Linked DNA regions of Homo sapiens. The protein of the gene in region 3 purifies or fractionates together with the protein of the main gene of each other region. This does not show direct contact. Each region holds a gene or a part of one and is shown on either strand. Other genes may lie near its edges. The genes, in order: PROZ, FAM170A, SMTN and P4HA2.

Region 1 (5,518 bases), on a different chromosome or scaffold from region 3:
GGACAATATCCAAGTGTATGTATAGAGCACAAAATATTCAGCACCTAACAGGATAAAATTCACATGTCTGGAAATCCATTACGGCATACAAACAGGAAAATGTGACCCATAATGAGAAGAAAAATATCCCAAAACTGAGTCAGCACTGACAGATATTAGTAGACAAGGACAATTAAACAGTGATTGTAACTGTAGTCCAAATGTTCAAAAAGTTAAGTAGAGACAAAAATACGTATTTTTAAAAACCTAAATTAAATTTTTGGATGACAGCTACAATATATGAGGTTAAACATCCACTGGCCAGGATGAATGGCAGATTAGACATTGCAGAAGAACAGATTGATGACCTTGAAGGCATCACAACAGAAACTATCAAAAGTAAAACACGGAGAGAACGGAGATTTTTGAAAAATGAACAGACCATCTCTGAGCTATGGGATTTCAAACAGCTTAAGATACATGTAATTAGAGTCCCAAAACAGAGCAGGGAGAAGGAGGAGAGAAAAAAAATCTGAAAATAATGGGCCAGGCATGGTGGCTCACGCCTATAATCCCAGCACTTTGGGAGGCTGAGGTGGAAGGATTGCTTGAGCCCAGGAGTTTGAGACCAGCCTGAGCAACATAGCAAGACCCCATCTCTACATGAAATTTAAAAATTAGCTGTGTGTGGTCGTGCACACCTATGGTCCCAGCTACTCAAGACGCTGAGGTGGGAGGATCACCTGAACCCAGGAGGTTGAGGCTGCAGTGAGCCATGATCACACCACTACACTCCAGCCCAGGCAATAGGGCGAGACCCGGTCTCAAAAAAAAGAAAATTATGACCAAATATTTTTCAAATTTGACAAGCGATATTAGCCCACAAATACAAGAATCTCAACAAACCCTATGTGCAAGAAACATGAAAACAATACACAGTATAATTAAATTCAAAATCCATGATAGAGGAAATCTTAGAAAGTTAAAATTAAAAAGCATTTAAAATCTTAAAAGTGCCACAGGTAAGGACATGTGAGGAACAGCAGCAGGGTGATGGGAGCCGTCTTGTGGCACAAGGCAGACAGGAAGGCAGTGGGGCAGGCCCAAGTGCAGAGAGGAGAGGACTGCTGCCAGCCTGGGGCTCTGCGCCAGACGCAATGCCTTTCATAGATGAAGATGAACAAAGACTCCTCCAGACAAACGCAAGAAGGCTTCTTCCCCAGACGCCTCACAGCACAGCAGATATCAAAGGGGCCCTTTAGGCAGGAGGAAAACGATACCAGAGGGAGGCCTGGATTTACACAAAGCAGCAAGGAACACTGGAAAAGGTTATGACATCCCATTAAATATTTATCCGCATTCCACTATATATGTAAGGTTTTTTTCCTTATTCTTTAAACTTCTTTACAGGATACTGTTTAAACAAAAATAATGGAAGTATAGAGTGGCATTTATAACATCTGTAGATGTAAGACCTATGCCAAAACCAGCACCCAGGTCAGGAGGGGAGGAATGGGGCATGATTGCTGTAAGGACTCATGCTACAGCGAGCGGATGTGGCGTCGGCGAAAGTGGAGTGGACTGTGATAGGGTAAAGATGCATTCTCCAAACTGTGAAGCAACCGCCAACAAAGAACCAGAGATGATAAACCAACAAAGGAGAGAAAACAGAATCATAACAATATATAGTTAATCTAACAGAAGGCAGAAAAAGGGGAAAAGAACAGATAAGAAAAATAAAAGATAGCAAGATGATAGCTTTAACCGTAAACATATCGACAATTACAATAAATGTAAAATGGCCTAAATACCCCAATTAAAAGGCAGAGGTTTTTCACACTGGATAAAAATGAAAGCCAATTATATACTACCTATAAAACATGTACCTTATTTATTTTTTAAACATGCACTTTATAAAAATACAAATAGGCTAAAAGTAGAAGATTGGAAAAAGATAAGTCATGCTAACACTAATAATTAGAAAGTAAAGTGTCTATATCAATATCAGACAAAGGGGATTTTAGAGCAAATAATATTACCAGGGATACAAAAGGAGAAAACGAGAAGTTGTTTGAAAGATTAAATGAAATAAAGCATGTGCCCACATAGCACGGGTACTGGCTCTGGAAGTGTTAAGTGTTGCAGTTTTCAACCGTCTAATGCAAAATGCTGAGCCAAGTGAGAAAGTGTTTTTCCAACTTTACCGTGGCGTCGTTCCTGGAACTCTTCATGTGTTTATGAATAATAGCTGCCACTTGTTGAATACCTACCATAAGTCAAGAACGTTATCTGTAATCCTCACTGCACCTCTAGGGGTGAGATCCTCACTTTAAAGGGGATAAAACCAAGTTCGAGAGAAGACGGCACTTGCGCCATCAGTCTGCCAGACTTTTAGTGATACTTCTTCCCTAGGATGTAAGAAACAAGGAAGTTCTAAAGATAATCTTCAACCCTATGTCCTGCTAGGTCACTTAATTATTCTCCTTTTCAAAGTTTGTTTTAGGAAAATTCCATATATTCAGTTAAATAACTTCAGAACAATTTATAATACTGAAGTAAAAAATCTAATAGTATGTAGCCTGCCTAAGTCAGTGTCCTCTGTCTTAAACACACCAGCTGTGTTTAGAGAATGCCTCCTCCCTGGTTATATGGCTCTTAGCCTTGCTGGTATGAGTGCTACGGTTGCAGACTAGAACCGCACCCTCTCTTCCCTTGGGTAAGCTGGGAAGCTGGAGACAGCCTGCAGGTGGTAGAGCCAGACCCTGTCACTACCTATGGAGGACCACTGCACTCTGGGCCTCCCAAGTACCGACCCTCAGCGCACTCATGGGGCAGACAGCGATAGGAAGAACTGTCTTAGAAAGCTTGGGCAGGAAAAGTGATAAAAGATTGAGAGGAAGTTTGCAAAGCTGGTGATAGACCATTCCCGCTTCCATCCCCGCCTTCCATCACTCCGTCTGCTTTGCCTCCCTTCGGTTTCTTCCTCTCCACCTTGGAGCTGGGTGGCTTCAAGTCCTTGAGCTCCATCCTGTTCTCTGCCAGTCCACACAACTGCCAGAATGAGTGGGCTGGGCACAGCTGTCTTGTAAGAGTCGGGTGAAACTGACGGGTGTCACACACAGAAACCTCAGGGGCTTATTACTCACAAGGGGGGCCCCTGAGGCTGTGCCATCCACACGGCAGCCACACTCGGGTACGGAGCATTGTGGACACGAGGGCTGCACCTCAGTGTAAATTCACACCAGATTCCAAAGATTCAGTGTAAAGGAAAAAGGCAAATAACCTCAATAATGTTTATATTCATTACATGGGGAAATAATGACACATATTGGGTTAAATATCCAAATTTCACATGCTTTTACTTACATTATTGTGGCTACTAGAAAATTTTAAATTATGTGGTTTACACTGCATTTCTATTGGACAAGGCTGTTCTGAAGGATATACTCAGGCAGGAGATAATTGTGTTAGAGGCCTGAAAGGCAAGGAAAGTGGAAAATGAGGTAAGTAAATCAAAGCCAGTGTGGGTGGTATAAAACCATAATAACAAAAATCGTAATATCTATTTTGTGAAGATATACAGAAAGCAAGAAAAGAATAAAATACTGGCCAGACAGCAAATGGACCCAGAATGAGGTGCTGGGAATTAGCCTGAGGAGGGAGAAATAGCTGACTACTTGTGCTAAATATGGATGTTTATGTGTCAAGAGTGACCATTAAGTAAACAGAAAGTGAATGATGAGGCCAGGCGTGGTGGCTCACGCCTGTAATCCCAGCACTTTGGGAGGCCAAGGCAGGTGGGTCACTTGAGGTCAGGCATTCGAGACCATCCTGTCCAACATGGTGAAACCCCGTCTCTACTAAAAATATAAAAATCAGCCGGGCGTGGTGGCACATTCCTGTAATCCCAGCTACTCAGGAGGTGGAGGCAGGGAAAGCGCTTGTGCCCAGGAGGCAGAGGTTGCAGTGAGCCGGGACTGGACCACTGCACTCCAGGCTGGGTGACAGATTGAGACTCCATCTCAAAAAAAACAAACCAAAAACAAATGAATGGTTAACTTCTAAACCAGCCAAGGAGGGGAAAAGGAGAACAAAAATGAATGCCAAACTAGAGAAATTTAGTGAACAAAGTAACAAAGCTAGAATGCCAGGCCAGCAGCCGAGAGCAGAGATTTTGAGATGCTTATGTTCTGAGAAAATGACATTGGTAACAGTTTGGAACTGCAGAGGAAAGGTCTTGGGGGCTGTAAATAATGCTGTCCTTTTGTATTAGTTATGAACTCGGCATTAGAACATGGTTGGAAGTGTGAATAGAGGTTGGTCAGTGCAGTCAGTAGCCCATCAAAGTCAGGATGCCTGATTCACTTAGTTGTCAACATTTCTATTTAGGAAATGACAAGTGAGGTGAAAGTCATAACAATAAATTGAAGCACGCGGAGAGCGCTCTGTTACCTGCCACGGGAGGTCCTGTAGATCCGGTGCACGCTTCTCAGAGGTCAGCACCCCGCAGGCACACTGGTCTGCATTTGCGGCAGCAACATGAGAATAAAAATCAGCGCCTTCTCAGCGAATATCGGACTCTGTCTATGGTGTTAACCGTTGCATAATTCCGTCTATGGTACTAACCATTATAATCTTATCCTTAATGCTGATGAATGTGCAGTAATTCACAGACACACAGACTGGAGTTAAACCACCCCTCACAGCACTCATGGTTTAGCTCAGAGTGGTCCGAGCAAGCACTAGTGACAGAAACTGCACTTTCTAGCATGGCCATTGCTCCAGCGTGGAGACGCGGACCACCTTCTGAGTCGTGGCAACTGCTTATCACAAATCCGCGGGCTTCACCCAGTACTACAGAAGGAAGGAGGATGTGGACGGGGTCGCTGGCATTGGAAGCTGGAGGCCGCTGTGGTCTGAGCACTCACCGTGGGGCACACACTGTTTGTGGTCCTCACCAAGCCTGTAGCCCTGAGCACAGCTGCATGTGTAGGATTCCTGTCCTGGGAGGCAGAAGTGTTGACACCCATCAGTCCGCTCTGGGTGACATTCATTTTTAGCTGAAAAGGAAAAAAAAAAAAGGAAATGCTAGCTTGGAAATAGTCATTTTATCACAGCCTTGCACACAGTTCTGTGTGTTGGTCCATGTTCATTTTATCACAGCCTTGCACACAAGAGTTCTGGTGTGTTGGTCCATGTGTTCTCATTCTCTTCAGATCGTTGTCCTCTGTGTCAGTGTTTCCCACATGTCCGTATTTCAGGAATGTGCATGTAGAACAAAGACTCCGTGAGTGAGGCCGGGCGCGGTGGCTCATGCCTGTAATCCCAGCACTTTGGGAGGCCGAGGTGGGCGGATCACGAGGTCAGGAGATCAAGACCAGCCTGGCCAACATGGTGAAACCCCATCTCTACTAAAAATACAAAAATTAGCCAGGCGTGGTGGCGCGTGCCTGTAGTCCCAGTTACTCGGGAGGCTGAGGCAGGAGAATCACTTGAACCCAGGAGGCAAAAGGTTGCAGTGAGCTGACATCGCGTCACT
Region 2 (5,783 bases), on a different chromosome or scaffold from region 3:
TCACACACCTCCACACACAGTGGATATAGTTATATACACATACCGTTCCTCTATTACATACTCACACAACCCATGTGTGTGACAGTCTTTTCTTCCTACAGAGATTTCTTGTGTGTGGGGAGTGTGTGTGTGTGTCTCCTCAACTCTCACACAAACACATCTATGTTAAACTATCTCTAAATACCTCTTTAAGAGCCAGTCACACATCATACATGCCATATCTGCAACACATTGTGTAGCAGAGCCAGGCCTGCTTTGCATAGACCACAACGAAACAAAGATTCACCACCATCCCCTTATTAGGGTTGCCGGATAAAATACAGGATGTTCAGTTAAACTTGAATATCAGATAAACCACCAATGATTTTTTAGTATAAGTGTGTCCCAAATATTTTATGGAACATACTGACACTAAAAATAAGTATGACAAATATTGCACGGGACATACTTACGCTAAAAAAATTATTTGTAATTTATCTAAAATTCAAATTTAACTTGGCATCAGCTATTTTTGTTTGCTAAATCTGATGACCCTTATAAATTCATAATGAGCTGACCTATGATATACTTATATATTTCTGCTTAATGTCTGTCTTCCTTGTCTAGAATGGAAAGTCCACTTAGAAGAAGGACTGTTTTGTTCAGTATTCCTAGAGCCTAGAAGAGTGGACTGGTGTCTGATTCATGGTAGCTGTTCATGAAAATATTGCCAGATGAATGAATTAATGTACATTATAAATACAAGCCACACCATACAATCAGGAAAAATTACATATTGCATAATTTCAGGGTTGTAAACACAAAACTATGCACACAAACTCCACAGACACAGACACATGTTTCTACAATATACCCACACAAATCTACACATATCAAAGGCTATCTGGTATGTATCACTCTTACGCTTCAGACGTACTCATAGTCACCACACAGGCCTATGTTCCTATTGATACACTATCAAAATACCTGTTGACTGTAATTAAATACTGGAGTATCCACCAGAAGCCTGTCTCACAAACCATGTGTGTTCACTACACCTGACATAGGTCAGCCACTCAGTAAATATTTGTTGGATGGTAAATGATGCACAAACATTACCCATCCATCATATCTCTGTTCCCTTCATACCTTTCTCAGGAATGTCAAAGTCCCAAGAGGATGCCCTGCAGCCTGGATCCACTAGAGTGGCCAAAGGCTGGAGCCAAGGGGTGGGAGAAGTTACTTCTACCTCCGAATACTGCTCCTGCGTTTCTTCTTCACGCAAGCTCATCCACAGTGGTAAGGGTGCAGGGTTCCTTCGGCACGTGGCTCCTTGGCTGTGGGGTTCATTGGGCATGAAAATATTTGAGTGTGGGGCTCTGTGGGCATGAGACTCTTTGGTTGCAGTGCTGCTTGGGTGTAAGACTCTTTGGGAGTGGGGCTTTTTGGGTTTGGGGCTCCTTCGGTGTGACAGTCTTTGGGTGTGGGGCTCCTTGGATGTGACATTCTCTGGGTGTGAGGTTCCTTGAGCATGAGACTCTGGATGCAGGGCGCTATGGGTATGTGACTCTTTGGGTGCTGGACTCCTTAGGCATGGGATTGGGTGCAGGGCTCCTTGGGTAGGGGGCAGGAGGCCCATAGATCCAAGGATGAGGCTAAGAAGAAACCCAGGGCAGTTGGATATGATCAGAGCTCTGCAGAGGTGTCTGGGCAAGATGACAGAGCTGTTAGAAGAGCATGGATATAAGCTCAGTGTAGGAGAGCATGAGCCCTGGTGTGCAGTCAGGCAGTCAGGGAGCAGAGGCCAGAAAAGTCTGCTGTTGGGGTGTAGGGCCACAGGACCAGATTAAGCACTTTCATCGGAACTATTTGGGCTCTGCCTTTGCCTTCCAGAGAAAGACAGATTTCCTCAGCCCAGGCCTCCAGCACTGCAGCGGGACTCTAGCTCAGGCCCACACACCTCACACATACAGCCACACGCTCCACAGGTACACTTTCTGCACACACACCACCCAAATGCATGACCTGCAGTGCCATTCTCCCACACTACCTCCCACATTCCACAAATAACACATCAATGATGGCACCAACTCACATCCTCATAGCACACACATGCTGCCGACATTCCACATATGCTGCAGTCCTCACCACCATACTCCACACCCCTGTATATGGACACCCCACCAACATCCCTACACGCAAATGACACTAGAATCACTACCCCACAATATGAACAACAAATACCAAGCTCACTACACAGCTGCATCTCACCACAGTCCCTGTCTCCTGCACCACACATATTTAACTTACGTTCCCTCAGCTCCTAGCATGGCCCATGCATCTGCTCATGTTTCTAATTTCCTTTCCCAGGAATCCAGAGAATACATCGAGACAGCCCCCAGCCTCAATCACCCCTGGCCCAGGTTCAGGAACGAGGAGAGACTCCTCCCCGCTCACAACATGTCTCCTTGTCGTCCTATTCATCCTATAAGACTTGTGTGTCCTCTCTGTGTGTAAACAAAGAGGAAAGGGGCATGAAAATATACTACATGCAGGTACAAATGAACAAAGGTGTGGCTGTCTCCTGGGAGACAGAGGAAACTTTGGAGTCCTTAGAAAAGCAGCCAAGGATGGAAGAAGTGACCCTTTCTGAGGTTGTGAGGGTAGGTACTCCCCCCTCTGATGTGTCCACCAGAAACCTCCTGTCTGACAGTGAGCCCAGTGGGGAGGAGAAAGAGCATGAGGAAAGGACAGAATCAGACAGCCTGCCAGGCTCACCCACCGTTGAGGACACACCCAGAGCCAAGACTCCTGACTGGCTGGTGACCATGGAGAACGGCTTCAGGTGCATGGCCTGCTGCCGGGTGTTCACCACCATGGAAGCCCTCCAGGAGCATGTGCAGTTTGGGATCAGAGAGGGCTTCAGCTGCCACGTCTTTCATCTCACCATGGCTCAGCTGACAGGCAACATGGAATCAGAGAGCACCCAAGATGAGCAGGAGGAGGAAAATGGAAATGAGAAGGAGGAGGAAGAGAAACCAGAAGCAAAGGAGGAGGAGGGGCAGCCCACAGAAGAAGACCTTGGCCTGAGGAGATCCTGGAGCCAATGTCCAGGCTGTGTGTTTCATTCTCCAAAGGACAGGAAGTGAGCAAAGCCTGGGTTGTGGGTCTGCTGAGGGAGCAATGGCTTCCCCGAGCCAGTACTGTCTCCCCAGTTCAGGCTTAGGTCTCTGTAAGGAAGATTTGGGGGCTTTATTGGCTCAGGGAACAATGGAGGGGGACATAACTGGGATCCCTGCTTCTTGCCTAGGCATCTAATAAAGTCTCGATTGTAAGTCAGGATTTGTCTTGACCTTTCCAGCTCCTGCAGGAAATTCTGAGAATTTCAAAAGTCGCATTAACTAAGAAGTGTCTTTCTTTGGTTTGATTTTCACACAGCAGCTGAGACTTATGGGCCAGAAGATACTGGAAGATGGTGTGGCCTTCTCTTGCAAGAGGTAAGGAGTGAGACTTGCAGTTTTCTGAGGCTGTGTTGTGAGGGCCCAGAGGAATCCAAGGGAAGGAGCTGCAGGGATGCACTGGGTCACCTGGTGGCTCTGCAGCCACATCAACTTATCGTGCACCTGGTGCTTCTGGGGGAATTGTCCTCCATTTGCTTAGATGACAAGGTGAAGAGCATTGACTGGGAACTTTCTCAATGTCTGCATGATTGTCCTCAATTCTAAGAGGAGGTGCTGCAGCTCTTCTAGGCAGCGGAAGCTCAGTGTAACCTCAAGGGCCAGGATTGGCCTGAAAGGACAGGATGCCAGCAAGATCAGAGGTGTGGAGTCTGAGAGCCTTTGGCCTGAGCTGGGATCCCACCTGAGCCCATAGATATAGCCCTTGGGGAAAAGGGGAATTTGGAGAGGTAACAACATCATCCTGATGAGACACCAAGAGAACTGGAAATGTTTCAGAACCTTCATTTTGCTGCATTTGATCTGGAAATGAACTCACTGTGGGTTGCATGACTCTGAGCTTCAAAACAAAGGTGAAGGGTAACTGACTAGCAATGCTTGTATTGTTTCTTGCCTCTTCCTCTTCTGCCTCAATTGTTTTCTTCACTTCCAGGGAGAAGAAAGAGCCATGGAGATAGTAGCAGACAGGCTGCCCAAGGTATGAAGCAGATGAGGGACCAGCACTCAGTCTAACATGTAAACATCATACGTAATAAAGGTTGTGTTTCAAACCTTACCTGGATATATTATTTAATTAACAAATTAATCTACCTATCTATTCATCATTTTCTTTTTTTTTCCTTTTTCTTTTTCTTCTTCTTCTTCTTTTTTTTTTTTTGAGATGGAGTTTCATTTTTGTTGCCCAGGCTGGAGTGCGATGGCATGATCTCGGCTCACTGCAACCTCTGCCTCCTGAATTAAAGTGATTCTCCTGCCTCAGCCTCCCAAGTAGCTGGGATTACAGGCATGTGCCAGCACACACAGCTAATTTTGTATTTTTTTAGTAGAGATGAGGTTTCACCATGTTGGTCAGGCTGGTCTCGAACTCCTGGGCTCAAGTGTTCTACCCGCCTGGGCCTCCCAAAGTGCTGGGTTTGCAGGCGTGAGCCACGGCGCCCAGCCCTATTCATTATTTTCATCTATCTCTCCAGTGGTTTGTGAACGAAGTTTTACATCAGCACTAAAGATATCTACCAGCCTTTTCCAGAGGCAGCAATAGCCAAGCTCCTGGGTTTGATTAGACTTCTGTGTGACAATTTTTTCAAGGCTGGATATCACATTTCATATGAGACCATGACAAACTCCACTACATACCTATGTTTCCATCATCCCGCTTTATTAAGCTTAGCATTTTTCTACGTTTGCTTCAGATGGCTTTGAAGTAAAAATGATTACAAATACAGCCATAGTCCCCTGTTCCATTGCCTTACATATGGATTTTGAGTATTTTTTAATACTTCTGTGCATGTTTTATACTATTATATAAATATATAAAGTGTTTTGAATATCTTGAAAGTTTCACATACTATTGTACTTCATTATTAGTTTTCAACTTGTTTTTATTAAAAAACAGGTTTTTAAGATTATCCATTGTCATACACATATCTGTAGTTAACTAATTTTTACTACTGTATTATAGTTCATTCTATGAATATGCCAACTTTTTATTTATTGTCTTTTTGATGAAATTTCAGTTGCATCCAAATTTCCTCTATTACCACAGAATGTGTGTCTCTCTCTAGAATGTATACCCAGACATCCATTGCTGTGCTGAATTATATAGATATTTCAGTTTAGTAGTTACTGCCGTGGTGTATTTCTTTCTTTGTTCAAGCATTTTTTTTCTTTCTTCATTCTTCAATAATGATTAATGCTTTTCTGCACAAATGTTATATACAATTTTTATTCGATGCAGTCCAAGATATCTTTTCTTTTCATTCTCCTTGTAAATGGTATGTTTTTTCTATTATATCTTAGAATTGGTTATTACTGATGCATATTTTAAATTTTCATTTCACATCTAGCAACCTTTTTGAAATTTTTCAGGTGTAAGTATTTCTATATAGTATTCTGTATTTTTCTATATTCAATCATATTAAATACAAATAAAAAGAATTAGTTTTTTCCTTTTTATTTCTAGACGGCACTTTTATTTTTCTTCTGTTACTGAACAGGCTAGGACCTCTGGTACAATATAAAATAATAGTGACCATAAAAATAACCTAATTTTTAAAAAAAGGTGAGAATGATTGTTGAATTTTATGTGGGTTTGATGCATCTATTCAGATGATTTCATTCCTTTAGTTG
Region 3 (5,518 bases):
CTGGTGGATCGCTGCACGGCTGCGCGGGGTCCGCCAGGGCTGCTGTAGGGGCGGTGTCAGGACCAGGTCACACGACTATAAGGGGCATGCCTCGGTGGGCCCACCCAGTGGATCCCAGGCCCCGCCTTCCATGACCTTCGGGCCTTTGCACCACAGATCTAGCCGCGCGGTCTTCCCGCCTCTGCCGGGCCAACTATCAAGCCCCGCCCCCCACTGCCTATCACGCCCCGCCCCCCACTGCCCAGCCCACTTCTGCAGCTCACCCGGCCGCGCCCTCCTTCTCCAGCTTCTCAATCATGGCCTTGCGCGCCTGGGAGGCTGAGGTCTTGGGCAGACTCTGCGCCTTCATCAGCTCTTTCTTCTTCTCGGCCTGCCGTTTCTCGAGCGCCGCCAGGCTGCCGGCCCGTGGGCTGGCCTGGTCCTCGCGGTCGAAGATGCTAGGGGTTGGGGAGGCGCATGTTAGGCAGGGAGAGCAGGGCTGCTCCCCAGCCTGGACCACCACTCGCGAGGAGGAGGGGGGGTCTTGTAGCACACTAGTATCTCCACTGCCACAAACGCCTGCCAGGGAGGGAGGCGTCCTCATCACACGCATTTTAGAGGAGTACACTGAGTCTCAAATGACAGCAAGGTTTTCAACAGGTTTCCGCCTCCCCCTCCCCCACCCACGAGTAGTTCTCTGAGAAGCCTCATTGTACCCTCAAGTTACAGGGGAGTTCAGCTTCTGGGCACTATCCGATAATAAAAATGATGACTAGCATAATAATAGTAATAATAATAATTCATCTCTGTTGATCCTTTCCTGTGTGCCATTTTAAACTTCACAAGAGCAGGGAGGGGCCTTACCAATTCCACTAAAGGTGAGGAAACTGAGACCTCTGGCAGTAACTTGCCTAAGATTTCAGAGGACGTGATGGGCGGAACTAGAACTTGAACAAGGTCTCTCTGATTCAGAGTCTCTGGACCCCTTTGGTTCTCATCCTGGATTCTGATCCTGTTCCTGCTTTCTGCCAGCCCCAACAGCCTCTGTTACATGGGGGTACCCTCCTTTCTCATGGGGCTAAGGTATAAAGGTGCTGTGTGACCTGGGACATGGTTTGCAGATACTGGGAAGTGGCAGTGCCACCAGGCAGCTCAGTGTGGTAGGTAGGCCTCTGTAAGTGTTCAATGCTATTGCAGCCACTCAGAGATGTGAGCCCCTAAGCAACTCACTGGCCTCCCTGAGCATCCACCTCTCCTGTGGTGTGGTTGAGAATAAAATGAGATCCCAAGGAGAGCAGGATCCTTAACTCTCACTTTGCCCCTCCCTGGCTATAGACCTATTACCTCCCAGCATCCCAGTCTACCCCTCTGTTTTATTTATTTATTTATTTATTTATTTATTTATTTATCTATTTATTTTTGAGACTGAGTCTCGCTCTGTTGCCCAGACTGGAGTGCAGTGGAGTGATCTCAGCTCACTGCAACCTCCGCCTCCCAGGTTCAAGTGATTCTTGTGCCTCGGCCTCCCCAGTAGTTGGGATTACAGGTGCCTGCCACCACGCCCGGCTAATTTTTGTATTTTTAGTAGAGATGAGGTTTTACCATGTTGGCCAGGCTGGTCTTGAACTCCTGACCTCAAGTGATCCGCCCACCTCGGCCTCCCAAAGTGCTGGGATTACAGGCAAGAGCCACTGTGCCCAGCCCACCCCTCTGTAAAACGGGTTTGCAGTTAGGTCCCCTGTGGCACTGACTCCTCTATGGTCAGGGATTGGGTGCTGGTGCTCACCTGCCCATCTTCTTGGATGAGGAGGAAGAGGAGAAGGTCTTGGTTTGCATCATGGTGCTGCCACTGCCATCTGCAAAAAAGGGGAAGGGGCACCAGGTGAGGGCCTGGGCTGGACATCAGGAGATGGGATGGGAGGCTGTATGGAGGGGTGGTGATAGCCGCAGGCAGAGAAGAGAAAGTGACGGCACAGTTGAAGACACGGAGAGAGAGCTCAAGGAAGAGCCGGAGGAGGTGGGCGGACAGGCAGGCAGGCACAGGGCGACACCAGGTGGCCTTACTCTCCGAGCGCCTCACGAAACTCGACTCCACTGTGGTGGTGCGGGCCGTCCGTGTGCCATCATCTGCAGGGGCAGGGGATGAGAAGGATGTGAAAGGCACAGGGGGCTGGGGGAGGATGTGTTCCCACCCTGAGCCCTGGGCCGGCCCCATTTGGCCCCTTACTGGAGTGGACGAGCCGCTCAGTCTTGGTAACAGTGCTGACAGCAGAGCCATCAGCTGCCCGCTGGCTGTGCCTCGTGGTGGTCTCAGTGGCTGTGTTGCCGCGCCCCTCCCCTGGCCGGCCCCGTGCCTCCTGCAGCCGCCGTTCCCGCTCCTTGTCCCGCTGGTCTGGGCAGGGGATGCCCCATGCATGCGCAAAAGGGCCACCAACACCCACACAGCACAGATGCACAGGTGCATGGGGCACACAAGACGGGGTGGAGGGTGGCTTGTTAGAAACATGAATGACACAGGTAACAAGGGCCTCTCTAGGAGCAGCTGGGGTGAGGGGACAGCCATAACTTGACAGGGAATGGAGTGTGGGAAGGGTTTGATGGACTCAGGCAGAAACTAGAGAATACGGAGTAGCTAAACTCAAAGGGGTATGGATCCAAAAAGGGTTTCTATAGGCATGAGTAGCTAAGTCAGGAGGGGTATCTAGATCTAGTGAGGGGGTAGCTGAGTCCAAGGAAGGAGAAGCTGAGTGAGGAAGTAGCTGGGTGGGCCATCAGCAGGTCTTTGGTTGGAGGAGAAGAGCAGCTGGAGGCAGGAATATTTAGATCCAGGAAGGGAGCAATTGATGGGATCTGAGAAGCAATCTGATCCAGGGGAAGAGTAGCTGGGAGAGAAGCTAGTGAAGGGGGTTAACTGGGCTTAAAATAGAAGTAGGTGGGTAGAGATAGAGACTGGGGTGGCCATCAGTGGGCCCTGGCAGAAGCAGCTAGATTCAGAGGAGTAATTGAGAGTGTTTGAGAGGAGAAGCAATTGAACCCAGAATCTAAGGGAATGAATAGATGTGTCCAGGGAAGAACTATCTGGGGGAGGAAGTAGTTGTGTCCAGGAAAAGGGAAGCTGGATGGGGCAGAGGCTAAGATGGCCATCAATGGACTTCAGGGAGAGAGGAGCAGCAGGGAGAAGGAGTATCTGGATTCAGGGAAGGAGTCGTTGACAGTACTTTGAGAGGCAACTGGATCCAAGGAGAGAGTAGCTGCGGGAGGGAGTATCTGGGTCTAGGAAGGAGAAGAGAAGCTGGTTGGGGAGAATAACTGGGGTCACCAGCGGGAGAGAAGGAGCTAGGGAAGGAGCAGCTGGATCCAGCAGGGAATAGCCAAGGGAACTGCTGGGTCTAGAGAAGGAGAAGCTGGGTAGGGCAGTTATTAAGCTGGGGTGTCCACAAATGGACCCCAGAGTATGAGGGGAGCAGCTGGGGAATGGGGCAGCTGGATCTAGGGTAGGGCAACTGGCTCTCTACCTCTCTTCCTTTGTCGGAGCTCACGAAGTGCAGCCCGGATGAGCTTCCGCTCTTCAAAGTCCGTGCTCTGATCCAGCTGCATATAGAGCCCATCATTGCCTACCTGGTGCCTGCTGGCCTCTGCCAACCCCCAGCCCACCGGATCTGGCTATACCATCTTGTCCAAGACTCCTTCATCCTCAATAGTCATCAGCTCCTCAGCGCTCAGAGGGCTCCGCCCTTCTGGTGCTTTGTTCACTCGGGTCTGCTCAGCCCCATTGGCCGCTTCCACTGCTGCAGCGAGAGGCTCTGCTGGCTCTGCTTCCATCTGCAGGGTGGGGAGAGGGCATGGACTTTAAGCAGGGGTATGGGTGAAACTCATCATGTCTCCAATGGATAGGGAAGCAGATCCTAGGGTTGCTGGCACGCCTTGGAAATAACCACTAGCCTGCCAGCCTGCCTGCCCAAAGATGGCCATGTCAGCGTCAGTCAGGGAAGAGGCACTGACAGTTTTGTTGTAGGGCTTCCCACGTACCCCGAATTGTATTAATACAATGGATAGTGATAATAATGATGATTTCCAGTCCATAGTAAGTGTTGTATAAACACTAGGGACTTTACTGTCCCTATTTAACAGAAGGGAAGGCCGGGCGCAGTGGCTCATGCCTGTAATGTCAACAGTTTGGGAGGCCGAGGTGGGAGGGATCACTTGTTGCCAGCAGTTTGAGACCAACCTGGGTAACATAGCGAGACCGCATCTCTACAAAAACAAAAATAAAAAATTAGCTAGGCATGGTGGTGTGCACCTGTAGTCCCACCTACTCAGAAAGCTGAGGTAGGAGGATTACTTGAGCCCAGGAGTTAGAGGCTGCAGAGAGCTATGATCATGCAGCTGCACTCCAGTCTGGGCAAGAGAGTAAGACCCTGTTGCAAAGAAAACAAGACCGGAAAAAAAAAAAAAAAAAACAGAAGGGGAAACTGAGGCTCAGGGCAGCTAACTGACTTGCCCACAGTCTCTCTCTAAGTGTGATGCAGCCTGGGATCTGAGCTGAAGGCAGCCTAACTCCTGAACCTTAGTTCATTTTGCTGCTTTGTTCCCAGCCCCCTCCCAGGCAGGCTCTGCTCTGTGCTGCCAGTTCCCGAGGCCTAGGTCCTCCTGGGCCAGTGCCCAGGCAGCACATGTTGCCCCCCATCTGCCTGCTACCTTGCCAAGAGGGCTGGCCCGGGGCCTGTAGGCTCCTGACCAGGTGTCTGACTGGGGCTGCCCTGAGCCAAGACCTCTATGAAGCTCTCCTCTGTACCACCTCCCCCTGCCTCGCCCCTGCTGGAAACCATCCTCTAAGGAGTCTCTAGCCCTGCAGCCCTCCCAGGGCATCTCCCTAGCCCCTTGAAGACAAGGCCCCAAGCCAACTATTATGGCCCTTCCTCTCCTGGCAGGGCCTCTCCGTCTGCTATAAGGGTAAGGAGAGCTGAGGTGGCAGCTGTTTCAGGGAGGCTTGGTCTGGCCAGGGTGCAGGGCGGCAGGGAGCTGGGGGCTGGGGCCTGGGTCATGCCAGGGGCTGCCAAGGCAGCTGCCACACATGCCTCAGGGCTGGAGCCTGGCACCCTCTTGCCCTAGTCTTAGAGCACTAGTGCCCCAGTCCCCTGTCAAGATAGATAAACTGAGGCTCAGAGAAGGTGGTGACATACCTAAAGTCAAGAGGAGGCAGAGCCTGGCTCAAAACTACCCCTCCCACCAACCCAGAAGCACTTACGAGACTAGTGCTGCGGGTGGTGCCGGTGGAGGAGCGGCGGCGGGTGCTGAAGGCAGGTGGGTGGGCCACGGGGGTCCCGGCATCCTCGGCAGCCTGAAAGAGGGCCTCGGGGTCGGCGGCAGCCAGGAGCAGCTCGCTGGGCTCCAGCTCAGGCTCAAGGCCGGACACAAGTGGGACCCCCAGCCGTAGGCTCAGCACCTCCACCTGCCTGCTCAGTGCATCCAGCCGCCGGCTCAGTGCTGCTCTCTCTGCCCGCAGCTCTTCAGCTGCCCGGGCCACCGGCTCCACGGT
Region 4 (4,698 bases), on a different chromosome or scaffold from region 3:
TCATTCCAGGCAGAAAGAGCCTTCTCTGAGTTCTTTTGTGTCAGCCATGCCCAGGTTGCTGTTAATGGGGCTGTGGGGAGTCTTCCTTGCTTTCCAGGGAGAGTCACAGCCCCCACTTCCCCTCCATGGTATCTGCTTTCTCATTATTCTCTGAGGAACCACACACATAGTCTTTCCCATCTTGAGCTCACCCTAAATCCTGCATCTCCCTATAGCTGCTTCTTCATATTGGCTTGAAACTATCTTCATGGTCACTTTCCAGCACTCCCTCTACAGCAGATGACCTTTGGTCATAAGACCCACTGAACTGATACTCAGCAAGGTCCCTGCCACTTAACAGCCAAAGCTGGCACTGCAACCTTGGCTCTTGGCCTCCCTTGGTGTCTCTCACACCACTCCCGCTCCCTCTGTTTCTCCTATCTTTAGTTCATTCTCAGGGTTATTCATTGTCTGTTCTTTCTGGGTAGGTGCTCCCTGGAGCTCTGGCCTTAGTCATCTTCTCCATTCTTTCCTCAGAGTTCCTGCAAGCTATTTTCCTCACCCATGGCTTGGTTGCCACCTAAATTTATGTTTTTTATATTCAGCTAATTTTTCCATCCTCTAGACTCATATGGCAAACTGCCCACCAGACATCTTCTTCTCTGTGGTCCACAGGACCTTCCCACTGTCCTCAACAATGCTTCCTGGTGGGTTTCTGGGGCTCCCCCTAAAAAGGCCCCTTCCCACTTGGGAGATGGGGAATCTGAGGCTAAGAGGTGGCTGTGAACCCCAGTCCAGGGCAGGGCTGGGCCATCTGTCTGTGCTCACTGTGTCAGTGGCCCTTTAGGATATGCAGTCTAAATGTCCGATGGAGTTCTGCTTGGTGATGCCCCCTATCCAGTGGCTCAGGCTTTCCTTGAAGTGGGAATCTCTTTCCCTAATCCAGAGGCTCTTTGGAGCCTGACAATTTACTTCCCCTGCTGTAGGAACCAAGTACCAGGCAATGCTGAGTGTGGATGACTGCTTTGGGATGGGCCGCTCGGCCTACAATGAAGGGGACTATTATCATACGGTGTTGTGGATGGAGCAGGTGCTAAAGCAGCTTGATGCCGGGGAGGAGGCCACCACAACCAAGTCACAGGTGCTGGACTACCTCAGCTATGCTGTCTTCCAGTTGGGTGATCTGCACCGTGCCCTGGAGCTCACCCGCCGCCTGCTCTCCCTTGGTAAGGAGATTCTAGGGGAAGGTAAGATGGGAATGGAGAGTGGCAGAGGAACTGCACTGTGCTGGCATCTGCCTGACCCCTCTCCTGGGACTGAGTCAGTTTACCCTGTCACTTGGCCAGTGACTAATGCCTTACTGACTTTAGGACCAGTCCAGCTTCTTACTAGCTCCTTACCCACCTCAATCCTGGCCTTAGGTTTGCGCAGTCGCTGATAGATACGCTCAGGCCTGTGGCACTTGTGGGCCTTTTTAATAAGGACTCTGTTATGGTGTATCTGTCACCATGCAGGACTACACAGGGTGGAACCTTTACTACATCAGGAGCAGCTCAGGAGTCAGGTTGTACTTTAGGATTGTTACAGTGACAAACAGTAGCGGTGCTATTAGAGGCCTGAGGTCTAATAGTAGGACTTCATATGGCATTGATACTTTGTGTGCCTTGTGCTGTTGGACTGAAGAAGGCCAAAAGCACTGTGCCTTTAAAACTCATCTACCTTTTTTTTTTTTTTTTTTTGAGACAGAGTCTCACTCATCCAGCCTGGAGAGCAGTGGCACGATCTCAGCTCACTGTAACCTCCGCCTCCCGGGTTGATGAGATTTTCCTGCCTCAGCCTCCCAGGTGGCTGGGATTACAGAGGCACATGCCCCATGTTGTATTTTCTTTAGTAGAGATGAGGTTTTACCATGTTGGTCAGGCTGGTCTCGAACTCGTGACCTCACGTGATCCACCCGCCTCGGCCTCCCAAAGTGCTGGGATTGCAGGTATGAGCCACCGCACCTGGCCTCTGTTGGTTTTCCAGTTACGACCAGCGTACTCTGGTTAGATGCTGTGGAAGGTAGAATGCAGCATGCAGGTGAGCTGCTGGGAGAGAAACCCTTACAGAATAATTTCTCTAAATGACCTAACAGATGTTTGTGGTTTCCTTTTCCTTCTCATTCCTTGCATTTTCTAGACCCAAGCCACGAACGAGCTGGAGGGAATCTGCGGTACTTTGAGCAGTTATTGGAGGAAGAGAGAGAAAAAACGTTAACAAATCAGACAGAAGCTGAGCTAGCAACCCCAGAAGGCATCTATGAGAGGCCTGTGGACTACCTGCCTGAGAGGGATGTTTACGAGAGCCTCTGTCGTGGGGAGGGTGTCAAACTGGTGAGATGTGTGAGGGGGCTAGGGTGCCAAAGCTGTGGACCTGGACTCTGGCTCTGGGCAGGCAGATTTGGGGAAGGTGTTCTTTATTCTGTAGGTACTTTTCTCAGTATATCCCCCAGTTTTTCATGGCATCTCCTGAGGCTGACATGTGGATATTCTCTGAGGTGTAGGAAAGGAGACTCTCTCCCCTCGTGCCCCAGGTAGAGTGTTGCTCCTCTAAGTTACCAGTGAGCTCGCCTCCTTACCCCAATATGTCCCACTTTTTGCTTCACTCACTGTTGGGAAGAAAACAATGGGTGGACGTACCTCAGGCCCCAAAAGAAGTCATGGTATAAGTGGAGAGTAAGTCTCTGTGGTAAAGACACCAGCGTGTACTAGAGCTTGGTATCGAGCCTTTGAGAGCCCTGGGATCCTAGTGCTTCCTGAGGAGGCCCAGGTGTGACAGGCTCTGAGCCTTTTCCATGCCCCTGTCTGCATGGCTTCTACTGGCTCCTCCACCAAGAAAGGTTTCTCCCCTGTCCCAGCCCTTCAGACCTACTCAAGTCTTCACGAAAAGGGTCAGGAATTACTTTCTGCCATGGGACTTGAGGATGTGAGGTGATTTTGGGAGAGAAGAAAAATTGCATGATTTGTGGGGTGTTATTTCATGCCAGTTAAGCTGAAGGGGCTCTCCTCTCCTCTCCCCTCCCCCCATTCCCCCCTCTCCTCCCCTCCCCCCCTCCCCTCCCCCTCCCCTCCCCCTCCCCTCCCCCTTCTCCTCCTCTCTCCTCCCCTCCCTCCCTCCCTTCCTTTCTTCCTTCCTTTTTCTTCTCTTTTTCCTGTTTCCTCTTTTTCCTTTTCTTTTCTTTCTTTCGTCTCACCCTGTCGCCCAGGCTGGTGTGCAGTGGTATAATCATAGCTCACTGCAGCTTTGACCTCCCAGCCTTGAGCAATCCTCCTGCCTCAGTCTCCTGAGTAGCTGGGACTACAGGTATGCACCATCATGCCTGGCTAATTTTTTAGAGACAGGTCTATGTCATCTAGGCTGGTCCCAAACTCCTGGTCTCAAGCTATCCTTTGGCCCCCCAGAGTTCTCGGATTACAGGCATGAGCCACTGTGCATGCCCACCTGCTGGGACTTTTGTTTTCTTCTGTGGTGTGGTGGGAGGGAGCAGCTGCTGGCCATGAGGTGAGTCCAGTGTCTGCAGACAGCCAGACTGGGACCGAGGATTAGGACTCACTCAGCTCAGGGCCTGTTACTCTGTGCTTTCCAGACACCCCGTAGACAGAAGAGGCTTTTCTGTAGGTACCACCATGGCAACAGGGCCCCACAGCTGCTCATTGCCCCCTTCAAAGAGGAGGACGAGTGGGACAGCCCGCACATCGTCAGGTACTACGATGTCATGTCTGATGAGGAAATCGAGAGGATCAAGGAGATCGCAAAACCTAAAGTAGGTGTCACTGTAGGTCCTTCTCGGGTCACTGAAGGGGGAAGGTCCTTTTTCTCATCCCTAGCACTATGGGTGGTTGGTTTGCCCATCTAGCCACCCTTTATCCATATCTAGCATGGGCCTACCGTGGGGATACAGAGATGCTTCAGACTCAGCCTGACCTTGTGAGTTCATGGTCCAGTGGAAGAAGAACAGGGTAACCAATGTGGACAGCCAAGTGCTATCATAGAAGGTCACGCTGGGAACAGGGCAGGTCTACACTGGTGTGTCAGTTCACCTGGTTGGGAGACTGGTGCGTGGGTGAGTTTTTTGGAAATGTTCCATAGGATGCTATGAAGCTGGGTCCTGTGGAGCTCCTGATTAGGACTGTAAATGAGGTGAATGACTTAGAGGAGAATGTATATCTTTATAATATTGGGTCTTCTCATCCAAGGGCATGACAGGTCTCTCCATATCTTTTTAAGTTTTCTTCATATAAGCCTTGAACATTTCTTAAGTTTATTCCTTGGTAGTTTCTTTGTTACTGTTAATTTACTTTATTTCTTCATTATTATTTTTAACTGGTTACATTATTTTATTAGTTTACTATTATATGCCAAACTATTGATTTTACAAATACATTTCATAGTAAGAGCTAATGTTTACTGAATTCTTAACTGTGGCAGGAACTTCTAAGTGCTTAACATATATATTAAGTGTTATGTCACAGTTATGAACAGCTGCTCATAATGATGTCACTGTCTCTGTTTTACCTATGAAAAAGCAAACTCATACAGATTGCAGCTAGTGGTTGAATTTACTTATTTCTTTTTTGGTTTTTAGCTGATTTCTCTTTGGTTGCCTGGATAGCATTAACACCTGGAAATAAGGAAAATTTTATTTTCTCCTGATACTTGTAGTTCCTTTGTTTTTATAAC

What was found.
Region 1: the proteins of SMTN (region 3) and PROZ purify together in Homo sapiens (co-immunoprecipitation; one large-scale study listed by IntAct). This does not show direct contact.
Region 2: the proteins of SMTN (region 3) and FAM170A purify together in Homo sapiens (co-immunoprecipitation; one large-scale study listed by IntAct). This does not show direct contact.
Region 4: the proteins of SMTN (region 3) and P4HA2 purify together in Homo sapiens (co-immunoprecipitation; one large-scale study listed by IntAct). This does not show direct contact.

The regions. Positions count from the first base shown.
Region 1 is NC_000013.11:113,164,034-113,169,551, reverse strand, and holds part of PROZ (vitamin K-dependent protein Z isoform 2 precursor), read right to left. Parts: intron 5,040-5,518; coding exon 4,908-5,039; intron 4,551-4,907; exon of another isoform or gene 4,500-4,550; coding exon 4,432-4,499; exon of another isoform or gene 4,369-4,431; intron 3,455-4,368; coding exon of another isoform or gene 3,383-3,454; exon of another isoform or gene 3,313-3,382; intron 1-3,312. UniProt on the Homo sapiens protein: Appears to assist hemostasis by binding thrombin and promoting its association with phospholipid vesicles. Inhibits activity of the coagulation protease factor Xa in the presence of SERPINA10, calcium and phospholipids.
Region 2 is NC_000005.10:119,631,611-119,637,393, forward strand, and holds the end of FAM170A (protein FAM170A), read left to right. Parts: intron 1-1,137; coding exon 1,138-1,278; intron 1,279-2,349; coding exon 2,350-3,124; intron 3,125-3,417; coding exon 3,418-3,424; 3' UTR 3,425-3,476; intron 3,477-4,089; 3' UTR 4,090-4,212; downstream 4,213-5,783. UniProt on the Homo sapiens protein: Acts as a nuclear transcription factor that positively regulates the expression of heat shock genes. Binds to heat shock promoter elements (HSE).
Region 3 is NC_000022.11:31,093,586-31,099,103, reverse strand, and holds part of SMTN (smoothelin), read right to left. Parts: intron 5,321-5,518; coding exon of another isoform or gene 5,228-5,320; intron 3,802-5,227; coding exon 3,649-3,801; intron 3,571-3,648; coding exon 3,495-3,570; intron 3,253-3,494; coding exon of another isoform or gene 3,173-3,252; exon of another isoform or gene 2,372-3,172; coding exon 2,207-2,371; intron 2,107-2,206; coding exon 2,044-2,106; coding exon of another isoform or gene 1,836-2,043; coding exon 1,766-1,835; intron 438-1,765; coding exon 264-437; intron 43-263; coding exon 1-42. UniProt on the Homo sapiens protein: Structural protein of the cytoskeleton.
Region 4 is NC_000005.10:132,206,791-132,211,488, reverse strand, and holds part of P4HA2 (prolyl 4-hydroxylase subunit alpha-2 isoform 2 precursor), read left to right. Parts: intron 1-965; coding exon 966-1,205; intron 1,206-2,157; coding exon 2,158-2,351; intron 2,352-3,604; coding exon 3,605-3,781; intron 3,782-4,698. UniProt on the Homo sapiens protein: Catalyzes the post-translational formation of 4-hydroxyproline in -Xaa-Pro-Gly- sequences in collagens and other proteins.